2 separate regions of the Homo sapiens genome follow, and region 2 is linked to region 1. Evidence: fine-mapped expression QTL. Tissue or cell type: whole blood. Region 1 holds a variant in brackets; the other region holds the start of a gene. All regions are shown on one strand. Distances are from middle to middle.

Region 1 (2,687 bases):
TTGTGAAAGGTGTTAGAAGAAATGTACATGGGCTGAGTGGAGGCCACTGCAAAAATTGGACAGTGTGTTGAGTTGTTCAGTTATAAGACACTGCTATCACTTGGTCACCTATAAATTGGGAATAATAGGAAGGAAGACCTTCCTCATAGAACTGTTTTAAGGGTTTTATGAGATAAGCAAGTGAAATTCCTAGGACAAGGCCTAGCACAGAGTAAGCGCTCAATAAACGCTACCTGATGGACATACCATGAGGCCAAAGAAGTGAATTAGGGCCAGGTTGTGAATGGCATTTTATGGCAAGCAGAGTTAGTTTAGTTTTGCACTTATGTGTTAGGGACTAGAGATAAGGAAGAAAGATAGCCATGGGCCAGATACAGTAGCAAGCCTTCTGGGATGGGCCAAGGCCTGGGAAATGATGTTGTTATCTTTTACAATAGTCTTTCCAAAATTGTGGATTGGGACCTGGTGATTCTTGAGAGAACTCCCTCTAGGTAGTTAAATAACAATATTAAATTAAATAGCCTTGATTTCTCCATAGAGGAATGGATAGAAAGATGATGTCTGAAAAAGGAAATACAGCAAATGCCAGATGATAGTATCTAGATGATGGGCATATAGGTGTTCACTGTTCAATTTTTTTCAACTTCTCTGTATACTTGAAAATTTTCACAATACAGTATTGGGGAAAATTGAGAAAGTGTATTCCCTCTTTAGTTCTTTTTCAATTCCAGAAAATCTCAAGAAAGTCTCTTGGTGCCAATATGGCTTAAACACTTTGCTTTGGCTCAGAGCCACTGGCAGCCTGTATCTAGTTACAATTTAATAAAACTATTGTACATTTTCCCAGGTTTGGTAGCTTGAGCCTGTAATTTCAGCCACTCAGGAGGCTGAGGTGACAGGATCGCTTCAGCCCAGGTGTTCGAGATCAGCCTGGGAATCATAGCAAAACCTCATCTCAAAAAAATATTTAAAAGTTAGCCAGGTGTGGTGGCACGTGTCTGTTGTCCTAGCTACTGGGGAAGATAAGGCGAGAGGATTGCTTGAGCCCAGGAGTTCAAGGCTGCAGTAAGCTATGATTATGCCACTGCACTTCAGCCTGGGCAACAGAGCAAGACCCTGTCTCTAAATTAATTAGTTAATTTTAAAAAAAATACTGTTTTTTTGTATTTTATTATCTTCAATTTATAGGAATTAATATGTTATTTTTCGTATTGATAGTGATACTGTTCTCTTTTCAAATAATGTATTTAAGCTTTAAAATATTCAGCATGGCCGAGTGCAGTGTCTCATGCCTGTAATCCCATCACTTTTGGAGGCCATGCAGGTGGATCACTTGAGGCCAGGAGTTCAAGATCAGCCTGGCCAACATGGCAAAACCACATCTCTACTAAAAATACACAAATTAGCTGGGCATGGTGGCACACACCTGTAGTCCCAGCTACTCAGGGGGCTGAGCGTGAGGATTGCTTGAACCTGGGAGGTAGAAGCTCCAGTGAGCGAGGTCACGCCACTGCACCCCAGCCTGGGCAACAGAGTGAGACTATGACTCAAAAATAAAATAAAATAAAAATAAAATATTCAGCAAATAGCAAACAGATAGTGTGCACTGTTGTGGTAAAAAAAAAAAA[G/AG]GCAGAGGTATTATGTACATGTCTGATGACTGCTATAGGAAAAGGAGGATTATTGAAGAATTTGAAGTAAAGGACTGGACTAATTGTTTTGGAAGTTAAATTATTCACCCTCTGCTCTTTGTATGACTGCAGAATGAATATAGAGTTTTGGGCTTTTATAGTTCCTCTAGTCACTGTTAAACTTCAATATGTGACAGTGACTGCCTGTCTGCATGTTCAGATTTTCTTCACAAGCCTATGAAAGCAAAGATCCCAGATAAAGCTCATAGGCTTTCTAGTGCTTAAGATGTGGCACTCTTTACTTGCTTTTGGAAAACATTCACATATTTCCTAAAGGGGCAAGAGATATATATTCTTGAAATAAAATAGAGCCACTTAATCAGAGTGGTTTGCCAAAGGGGACTGCCTGTGGATTGGATTTTAATCTGTCTGTCACAGTCACCTTTTCTTTTTAGAATGTTCTTAATAGAATTTAGAAAACACCATAAAATACCTCACTTATATAAAGTAAATGTAAAATAATGTGTTTCTGTGAAAGCAAAAAAGCAAGAAATATTCAAATTCAACAGTGTTTTTATATTACTTCCATCTGTCTATTGTTACAATTCTGTGTTCATTACTATCTCAATGGAATTCAAAAGTTTTTTTTCACTACCAGAATCAACAGTAATAATGATAAGCAGTCAGAATAACTAGACTTTACCCACTAAAAGAAAAGAAAAAAAAACCTTTTTTACACTTGATTCAGAAATAGTGTTTTTTCATGCAGTTTAAACATTGTAAAAGTGTATTGTTTCCTAGTACCAGCTATATGTCCTTATGAACTTTCATATTTCTGATAAATTGTTAGAAGTAAAACTGCTAAAGCAACATATTAATATTTTAATTGTTATCTACTTTTTGAAACAAAAAGTAGCTGGTATCTCAGGTACTCCTGAGGTCGGGAATTTGAGACCAGCCTGGCCAACATGGCAAAACCCTGTCTCTACTAAAAATACAAAAATTAGCTGGGTATGGTGGCACATGTCTGTAATCCCAGCTACTCAGGAGGCTGAGGCA
Region 2 (2,687 bases), 200 kb before region 1:
GAAGCTGCAGACCTTTGCAGTGAGTGTTACAGCCCTCGAAGGTGGGGCATACGGAGTTGTTCATTCCTCCCAGTGGGTTCGCAGTCTCCCTGACCTCAGGAGTGAAACTGCAAACCTTTGTGGTGAGTGTTATAGCTCATAAGGATAGTGCGGACCCAAACAGTGAACAGCAGCAAGAGCTACTGCAAAAAGCAAAAGCACAAAGCAACCACAACCTGGAAGGAGACCCCAACTAGGGGCCACTACTGGCGCCGGTGTCCAGCTTTTATTCCCTTATTTGGCCCCACCCTCATCCTGCTGATTGGTCCATTTTACAGAGTGCCAATTGGTCCATTTTACAGAGTGCTGATTGGTCCCTTTTTAAAGAGTGCTGATTGGTGCATTTACAAACGTTTAGCTAGACACAGAGCGCTGATTGGTGCGTTTTTACAGAGTGCCGATTGGTGTGTTTACAAACCTTTAGCCAGACACAGAGCACTGATTGGTGCATTTACAATCCTTTAGCTAACAGAAAAGTTCTCCAAGTCCCCACCTGATTAGCTAGACACAGAGGGCTGGCTGGTGTATTTACAAACCTTTAGCTAGACACAGAGCGCTGATTGGTGCATTTACAATCATTTAGCTAGACAGAGAAGTTCTCCAAGTCCCCAACCGACCCACCCGGCTTCATCTCTCAGCTTTACATTGATTTTAGGTTAAGGATAGAACAAAACAAAACACCCACAACTCCTTAAGGGATGGAGAGCCTCCAATGGCCTCTCCTTGACTCACCTGAAGCCCTGGGCTGCAGGAACCTCACCTGTCTCTATTCGTTAAAGTCTCAGCTCAAACACCACTGTCCCAGATAGGCCTCGTGACCGCAGGACTAGACCACGGTTCTCTGCGGAGGGCGTCAGCTCCGTGAGCCACCCTTCCAGCACCCACTGCCATGGCGAATATTTGCTTGTTTGGCCATCCAGGGACTGTTTGAGCCCCAAGACCGCAGGGCTCGGGGTCTGTCTTTGCTCAGGACGATAACCTGGGGACTGGACAGTAGGCCCTCAGGCCTTGGGACCGCTCAAAGTGAACCGGGGCCGGGTGGGGGACCCAGGGCTCTGCAGCCTTAAGAACGCCTGTGCCCCCGGGACGCAGGGGTCAGGCCCGGCCCGGCCCAGACCGCCTCTGCCTCCTCCTCCTTTTCCTCCCCGCGCCCGCTTCTCCTCTGACCCCTCCTCCCGCTGCTCCTCCTCCGCCTCCTTCCCCTGCCCGCGCCCGCCCTACTGCCCCGTGCCGAGTTTCCTGTTTAAGATGGCGTCCCCCGTAGCAGCGCAGGCCGGGAAGCTTCTGCGAGCCCTAGCGCTGCGGCCCCGCTTCCTGGCGGCCGGGTCCCAGGTGAGCGTGGGGGCAGGAGCTGCGGGCGCCAGCAGCGGCGCCGGCCTGCCCGGGCTTCCCTCGCCCCCTGCTACTCTTGGTCTCCGCCTGACCCCCTGCGCGGCCCCTCGGGCGCCCCACTTCGGGAGGTGACGCGGCGCCGGGTCCAGGCGCAGCAGGGAACCCCGCTCCAGTGTGGGGCAGGGGCGGCGCGGCGGCAGCCCCGGGTGCCTCGGGGTATGAGCGACCCAACGCACTAGAGTCTCCGCTGTCTGCCCGCGCAGACTCATGGCGAAGGCGCTGAAGCAGGCGCTGGACGCAAGTTTAAGAAAAGTTTCTTGGACCGGGTTTTGGAGCCCTGAGGTTTTATTGTCAGCTCTACTAATTCTGCTTTTCAAACTTCTGGCACTAACCCTGAGCACGTTTAGACCACGTGATAAACATGCCTGGAAACCCGTTTCAGCCCAACTAGGAACTCACCCCCTAGGGTGAACTTCCTGCAGGCTACCTGCTTTTGCAGACTTTTAATGTGCCTGAGTTGGTCAAATCCGTGGGTCAAGGAGAAAAATGGGAAACGATCTTTCTCCTCTTTCCAATGAAAAATCAGGGCTGTCACTAAAACGCATTAGACCATTGACCCTGTCCATGTCCTCCTTGTTGATGGAGAATGAAATCAAAGAGGGTCAGTGGTGGGCTGGATAGCGATTGGAACTTGGCCTCTAGCAGATTTTTACCTTCTGCAGATGGCAAGCGTTAAAATAGTCAGAAGGACTTCAGGAAAGTTTTGAGTTGGTGATGACTCTTGTAGAAATCACTCAACCACTGAACTGGTTAGTCTCCGTAGACTATCTCTCTTCCCTTTTAAAGAAAGCACAGTCTGGGATTCAGCCACAGCAGAGTTAATGACCTTGCCTATTTCCCCATTTTTAATTGATGAGAGGCAAATTATCACTCATACAATTTTAACCAGGATGTGCATAGTATAGTTTTTTAGAAAATTTAAAAAATAGTGATTAATGATTTTTTGAGTTCCTCTAAACTTTGGTTATGACATCTGTGAGCTATTTTTACCCCTCTCCTTTCATTTCCTGCCTCCCCATTTCTCTGTTATTGTTAATGTAAATTTAAAAGGTGCTAATACTTACTACTGTAATATTCTTAATAGGTGCTTGACAGTATAGTGAGGTAGCAAAAGGAATGGCAGTTTTGTCTAATTAAAACTCACTAATAACTGTTGTAATAGAGTAAGGAGAATAGCTCTAGGAGATGAAGTCCTATTCATTATTTAAGTGTTAGAAAAAACAAGAACTAGGGTGCTTACCATGAGTGTAGACTTG

The links. PIP is the estimated chance that this variant, and not a neighbour inherited with it, causes the effect.
Region 2: it holds the start of SUCLG2, and the variant in region 1 is fine-mapped to the expression of SUCLG2 in whole blood (INTERVAL, PIP above 0.99).

What each region holds. Positions count from the first base shown.
Region 1 is chr3:67,448,496-67,451,182 of GRCh38, reverse strand. The region is part of intron 9 of SUCLG2 (succinate-CoA ligase GDP-forming subunit beta); the gene reads left to right. Among named protein-coding and RNA genes, the nearest start is that of SUCLG2, 200 kb to the left of the region's middle. The variant G/AG (reference allele first, on the strand shown) is at 1,629.
Region 2 is chr3:67,653,187-67,655,873 of GRCh38, reverse strand. SUCLG2 (succinate-CoA ligase GDP-forming subunit beta) reads left to right here and starts at 1,262. Exons shown (of 11, transcript NM_003848.4): 1 at 1,262-1,371. The coding sequence starts at 1,288. SUCLG2-DT (SUCLG2 divergent transcript) reads right to left here and starts at 1,177. Exons shown (of 7, transcript NR_109992.1): 1 at 772-1,177. RefSeq lists an enhancer at 956-1,455 and a silencer at 971-1,650.